2 linked regions of the Homo sapiens genome follow. The protein of the gene in region 2 interacts with the protein of the main gene of each other region in a biochemical or structural test. Each region holds a gene or a part of one and is shown on either strand. Other genes may lie near its edges.

Evidence for each region.
Region 1: the proteins of VAMP7 (region 2) and SNAP25 form a complex in vitro, tested with the Homo sapiens proteins (one study listed by BioGRID).

What each region holds. Positions count from the first base shown.
Region 1 is NC_000020.11:10,225,163-10,228,992, forward strand, and holds part of SNAP25 (synaptosomal-associated protein 25), read left to right. Parts: intron 1-1,515; exon of another isoform or gene 1,516-1,618; intron 1,619-2,124; exon of another isoform or gene 2,125-2,276; intron 2,277-3,830.
Region 2 is NC_000023.11:155,894,745-155,898,574, reverse strand, and holds part of VAMP7 (vesicle-associated membrane protein 7), read right to left. Parts: intron 2,953-3,830; coding exon 2,895-2,952; intron 464-2,894; coding exon 326-463; intron 1-325. UniProt on the Homo sapiens protein: Involved in the targeting and/or fusion of transport vesicles to their target membrane during transport of proteins from the early endosome to the lysosome. Required for heterotypic fusion of late endosomes with lysosomes and homotypic lysosomal fusion.

The sequences.
Region 1 (3,830 bases), on a different chromosome or scaffold from region 2:
CAGTTGGTGGTACAATGTTGATTAATTAAATTCATAGTCACACATCAAATAAATTCACATGTCCCGGAGGGGAAAAAAAAAAAACACATTCGCCTTGTCACAACCTACTGCAGATTTCAATGTCTTTCCACCAAGGTAAAACATGGTATCACAAGAGGAAATCCTAACTGATTTTCTTATTGTTGACTACAGAGGTCAACCTCAGCAGTGACTGACTTACTGGTAAGAACAAATCTGTATCCCTAAAAAGAGATGGGGGGAAATCCTATTTAAGGATTAGCATTTCCTTCTAAATGCTTAACAATGATTCCAGAGAAATTCAGTCAAATGATGCCTGCTCCCGAATGATGCTGAATAACAGCTGTACTGGGCTTATGGCTTGCTTTCTTTGGTTGTGGAAAAATATATTTCATCCTCTTCTTTGCTGTTGTTGATATGGTTCATATTACTCAAAGATGTCTAATTCTCATGTCTTAAATTGAGACTGTTGGCACTTTCTGCTGACTCATTGTGTCTTAATCTTCCAAGGTGGTCCATTTTTACTTAAAGAAAAAGGTTATTTTCCTCCAAAGTGGCAGGTTCTACAAAATGACCATCTGGTCCCAGCTTCCCCATCACTTCCTTTATTCAAATGACACTAGTCACAGATCTTGAACTTGAGAGATGACTTTCCATGCCTGTAACCTTGAATCAGTGGTTTCTGTCCTTTACTGATAACAGCAAGTAAAAAAATGAAAGTCTCTTAGGTGCCCCCCTGAGGCCAGAGTTCAGCCCTACACTCCTGCCTCATTCCTTTTTCAGAGAATTTTCTCAGTTGAGCTCTGAAAATCCTGCAAGTTGGACAGAGTTCCCTTTCCATGAAGAGTCTCAGACCAAGTTGTTAATCTCCTTTATTTATGTTCATCTTTGGTACAGTTTCAAAGAATAATAACTGGCAAATTCCAAAACAGTGAATTTCTTAAATTTCCCTGCAGTTATTCCGAAGTTGGTCTGGCAGCTAGGTATAGGTAAATCACACTGTGACTTCTCTATCAATAAACAGAAAATGCACAGAAATAAATGCCAGAAAGACTGCTAGGAAGAACACTGGCAAACTATTTCAATACGCATTAGCCTTGTTGAGTGAATTTTTTATTTTAATGGGAAAGTCCATTCCTAATTTATGCCAGAGAAATTGCTGAATGTATCTACTTTTTCCAATTCCATGATCACTGCCCATGTATTGCTTCATCATAAATCAGCTGCTATTATGGCATTCTTCATTAATTAATCCATTGAACAAATATTTATTGAACACCTGCCATGTACCAGGAAAACATACACTGGTTCCTAAAGTCAGAGCTGTAAATAAAATCATCATGTTTCTGCCCTCCATGTGTTATGCTAGGTGTCCCCTCTTGAGGTGTCATTATTTTAAAAGGCATGTTTCAATGGGATGCCTTTTAGAATCTAAGACATTAATTCAATGTAGAAAAGAGCTATGGCTCTCTAATCAAAATATACAATCTATTGAAGGTTTCTACTGAGCTGTCAGTATCTACAGAGAGATTGCTATATCATAAACAAATACATATTAAGAACCAGCCTCAGCCATCACCGAACTCAGTAAATATCTAAGGTATGTCTTTGTGTGAACTTGTCTCTATTTACATGGCAATCAACTAGGATGTCACTAAAATGTCCCTTAAATACATGACTATATTCCAGTATCCCAATCTGTTGGGATCTCTCCCTGTAGAGACCACTTTCTGCCGCTCATGGGAGGAAGGGGTCAAGCTTTAAGAAACATGGTACCTCCTGGGCCAGAAATCCTATTCCCAACTCCAAAACTCATGGAGCAATGCAAGAATAGGTTGACTAAGAAAGGATCCTTTGGATGAGAGTACTTCCCAATCCAATCCACTTTCCTCCTCTGAAAACTTCCTGTCATTAAACAAAGTTCAGTGATTCGGGATCAAGTAGAATTATGTAGTGATTCTGGATCAAGTAGAATTATGTCTTAATTTCCCAAACTCCTACTTCTAGAAATTCACCTCTTACCAATGAGCAATGCCCCTATCTCCCTTGTAAGATTGATCACACTGCTTTGTAGTTACCTACTTATGTATTTCTCTTTCTTAATAGACTTTGGAAGTCTTTGAGAGCAAGGGTAATATCTTAGCTTTCTTTGAATCTTCAGTACCTATAACAGTGCCTGCCACACCCATGTATGCAGGAAATAAGTGAGCGAATGGGGATACCAGCTACCCCTTTGCAGAGAAAAGAATTCTACCACTGTAAGTAATCCTGCTTTTTATTGATCAAATGTTATGATCAGAATAACTCAGGAATTGTTGTGTACCCTTGCACATAGATTCATCCTAAATATTGGAATAAAATTATGTCCCAAGGAATTACTTAGGTTTACCCTAACTAGCTGCCAAACTATGGCAAATGGTATAATATTCTAATCTGTTGTTTTATCACTTATGAGTCAGGAGTTAAAATGCTAACGAAGGATCAAAGGATTCTCAATAAAGGCATTGCTAAAATCAGGTTTATATTCAGAGATTAAAAGCCATTCACTAAGAGCATTTAAAGTCAAGCAGTTTAGCATATATGAATTATAAGTTTAAATGTTTTACTGTTCACTAGGATGAAAAGGATATTTCATACATCCATTTGAGACATATATTACATTCACCAGTGGGGTAGATTTATGGCTTTGGCCAACTTGTGTTTTCAGGGTCACATATTTGCTGCTGTGCTATTAGAATTGGCATGGTGGACACAAGTTTTTCATGTCAATTCCGCTTCCTTAAAAGTGTCCTTCAGAGACACCAGTCTCTGGGCTTTTCCTCTCAAATAGTCAGTGTCCTCTTGCCTGGGAGAGAATCATAAGCCTGGGCATGATTTGGTAAATAAGTCCCATTTGTCCTTAGAAAAAAACCTTCACCAGTTGAGCATTGAATTTTGCATATCTTTTTTCCCCATTCCTTCTCATGAAAACACGGGTTACTCTGCATCCAACTTTCTCCAGAGAAGACTGAAGATACTACCACTTAATGACCACAAGGAAAAAAGTAACTAACTTCCTAAATGTCTACTGTGTGCTGCACTGGGCACTTGATGTATGTTGTTTCCTTTATTTTCCATGGCAGCCTTAAAAGAGTTCGGAACACTTGTCTCTGACTGCAAAGTCCATGGTTTTCCCCACCACCCCATAAATTATCCCATGAGTTGCACAAAATACATTGAGATCCTCTAACAGAAAGCACACTGCTGATACATAGAACGTGAGTCAGCCAAATCTAAAAAGCTGAGTCCTCCAAGCTAAATAGCCAGGTGAGATATGGTGGTGTAAGTGACCAGAGAAACTATGTGTCCAAACAAGTTCATGGAGCAATGGGTGGAGAGTCAGCTGGCTGCATGCCAGCTCTGCCACTTCAATTGTATAACCCTGAACAATTTACCTAATCTGAACTGAGCCTCACTTTTATTTACATCTGTAAAAGGAGAGCAATTGCTGCCATGCATATATGTCAAGTGGTTGTCGTGAGACCTAAAGGAGCTAATGCTTGTGAAGTAGTTACCTCCACCACTCTGAGAAAGAGGAAGGGACTGTTGTTATGTTCAGTTACCTGCTATTTGCCATACCAGATTTCCAGGGTTCTTTATTATAGGTTACATGAAGGCCATATGCTTCTTTTCCTCTTTATTGTTGTGTTTGCTTAAAAACAAGTCTTGGTATCACATATTTTTTAGCTTGATCAGCATGCATAATAAAATGGGGAAATATGTCAACAGCCTTTGATTTTTCTATTTGGGGAAAGATTTTTAAATGCCTTTGA
Region 2 (3,830 bases):
AAGGTTTACGTATAGTTTAAAAGATCATTTGGCATGCTGAACACATTTAAGCATCAGATGGGTAGTTCAACTAGATGATCTTTAATGCTCTTCCAATCATGAGACACTGTGACCACTATTAATAGAGATAATAAAGACTATCACTGTTTTCTACCCTAAAATGGCCCCTTTACATTTTTTTTTTAATCAGGGAAGTTTTATTATGTTGGCTTACAGTAACACAATCAGAAAACTATATTGCAGGTCAGGGCCCCCTAGATTCATAGTGTTTGAAGGTAATGAAGAAGATATAAATCAAAATACCTTATCCTGAGAAAGATCTTACCAGCTGTGCAGCTAAGACACTTGAGAACTCGCTATTCATGGCATATGGAAGTGCTGTCTGTGCTCTTGAACCGTAAGTAGTCTGGAACCTCTTCTTTATCTCATTCAGAAAATTAAAGGCTCGGGAACGTTCAAAATCCTGAAAAGAGATCAACACAGAACTCACATTTAGAAAGTAAACAAAGATGATGTGAGTGATTAAGAACAACAATAAAAAACAGCTAACATTTACTGAGCAATGATTATCTGAGGAGGAACTAGCATTGATCCTATCTTAAAGATAAGTAAAGGAAGGCTCTGAAAAAGTAACTAACTTGTCCAAAGGTCCAACAACTAGTAAATGAAAGAGCTGAGAATGAATCCAGATATATCTGGTCATTGACAACTGAAGATAATGATACCTAGGTTATCAACTTCTTGACATCAGGAATTGAATTTTACTTCCTCCATATATTTCATAAGATCTATTAGAAGGCCCAGCACAAGAATATGTTTAATAAATCCCATAATAATCATAGAGTCTTTCACACATACAGATACTACTACTGATATTAACTTCAAATCGAATTTTTTCAATAGTGGTGGTATATTTGAAAAGATCAAGTGACATACTCATGTCTAATCCCAGCCAGCCAAAAAGTATGTGTGTTCTCTGTAAGAATACCTTAGAGGAAAAAAATGAATGTGTGTATGTGTGTTTATGTATACATGTATATGTGTGTATCAAATTATAGCTCAAGAAATATGAGGCTCGACTCTAACTATCCCAGATTTCATTAGTATTTTCCTTCTATTCCAAGCTGTTTCACATCAGTCATTTCACATATAGCTAGATTTTTTCGTACTTTTGGAAAATATTGTGAAGCCAGAGATAAAAATCATTGTGATGATCACTATGGTTGACAGTCATTTCCCTTTCACCCAAGATGCTTAGTCTAAGCCAAGGGTTCTTAAATTGGGGTCAATGGTCCAAATTCAAGGGGCCTTTGAACTTGGATAGAAAAAAAGAAAATCACATCATTATTTTTATCAATCGTTAACTTATATTTCAATTGTGAATATAGGTTGTATATTCATAATCGGGGTAGTATTAAACAGTACCTGTAACTGTCACCAACAGAAATCTTTTTTTGTATACCATCACAGTTACAGATATCTCAAAATACTGTCAACACCCATCACATCAAGACTATTAGTTATTAGACCTATGACTAGATCTTGTTAATGAGTTCATAAAGAAGCATATATATTACTACATCAAGTTTTTAAAATATTTTGAATACTATATATATATATATTTCAATATAATTGGCTTTGTTAGAATTGTGTGTGTTTTATACATTTAAAAGCATTCTGGAAAAGGAAAATTAAAAAAAGAAAACAAAAACATTCTGGGAGTGTCCCACAAGTGACGAGTCTGTGATACAATAAAGATTAGGAACCCTGATCTATGGCAACCATGCCAATTCCAAGTCTCTTTGCCAGTAGGCAGTTTAGAAATGAGCATGCAGCCAATAAGACATGAAAGGAAGTTCACTTTGAAAGCAGGGGGAGGGGAGGGCATGCAGCTGGGAAAAGCTTCCTCATTCCTACAATAAGACACTCAAGAAGACACAGTCCCTCTACTCCGGACATGAATAAATAAGTATGTAGCTCTACGAAACCATAATGGCAACCTGTCTGGGAAGAAGGAGACACGGAGATAAGCAGAGAAGAGAAAGGACCTTAATGACATCATTAAGTTACTGAGAATTTTGGGCTGAGAGCCGACAAACAGTCATACCTAACCAATGTAAACTACAGGTTTATATAGCTGATCATAATGTATTGTAATTTTGTTTTTCCAAAGTTCACATACATTAAAGGATTCATTAACTACTGATAGAAGAAATGATGCTATCTAATTTAACATTCCACGTAAACAATTTTTGAGAGGTTTTGATATCAAAGAATTATAATTATGAACATCAATTCTCACTACAAAATAGAATAAATATAGAAGTTGCAAGAGGCTAAGCTAAAACTCTACCAAAATTGAGTTGATTTGCACATACCCCAGTATCAAGTTTTCTTAACATTTGCTGCTCTATATGACAAATGCAAAATATTAACAATTCCAGCTATGTAAAGTTCGCATCACGTTTGCCCACTATAGGTACAGATCAGCAGTCCCCAACCTTTTTGGCACCAGGGACCGGTTTTGTAGAAGACAATTTTTCCAAGGACTGGGGGAGGGTGAATGGTTTCGGGATTAAACTGTTCCACCTCAGATCATCAGGCATTAGATTCTCCTAAGGAGCATGCAATTTAGATCCCTCGGATGCAGAGTTCACAACAGGGTTCACACTCATATGAGAATCTAATGCTGCTGCTGATCTGACAGGAGGCAGAACTCAGGTGGTAATGCTCATAGGCCACTCACCTCCTGCTATGTGGCCTGGTTCCTAACAAGCCACAGACCTGTACCGGTCTGCAGCCTGGGGGTTGGGGACCCCTGGTATAGATAATTAAGAACTGGCTGTATTAACAGTACACATAGTTAAATAGCAATATGTCTTCAAGTTACTTACATCATCAGTGATACAAAGATATACAATCCTGTCTTGGCAGATGTAATGAAACAAATAACTGTAGAATAAAAGATATAAAACTTACTGTGGTTATAAGCAACATCACTTTTACTTCTATCTTCTATCTATGTATAAGCACGTTCAGTACTGCCAATGTCACCATATTACTTACGGATACAGTCTCTTCTCCCTCTTCCCCTTCCCAATATACCTGTTTCTTTCAAGTCAAACTGATAGAAGTACATAAGAAATAAAAAGATCTCTATTCTAGCTACATAGCACAACAGCATGTGTATTACCCATTAGAACGATAGCTGCAAAAGCATAATTGGACTCTTAAAGCATGAACAAGAGATGACATCTTAGGAGGAGGATGTAATTAAGATTAACCCCCAATAGGCCATATGGTTTTCTTTGCTTTTTCCTAAGTTCTTAAAGCAAACATCTTTTCTACCAAATTCTCAACATTTGAGTATCCACTTTGAGTTAGTTACTGTGCTGGATGCTGAGGATACAAAAAAGCAAAACCACCAAGTCCCAGTCTTCATAGGGATCACAGTGTAAGGAATTACAGTGCAGCATGGCAAACAGGATGACAGGAAAGTTAAAGGCAGTACATGGTGCTCTGGGGACACATTAATAGATGAGGCACGAAATGGAGATTTGCCAAAGGGTAACCAGAAAGACTTCCCAGAACAAGTGATGTCTGATTTAAGACCTGAAGAATAAGTAACAGATGGCAAGGTAAAGAGTGAGCGAAAGGCCAGGCGTGGTGGCTGGCTCATGCCTGTAATCCTAGCACTTTGGGAGGCTGAGGCGGGCAGATCGCTTGAGCTCAGGAGTTCAAGACCAGCCTGGGCAACATGGCAAAACCCCGTCTGTACACAAAATACAAAAATTAGCCAGGTGTGGTGGCACACGCCTATAGTCCCAGCT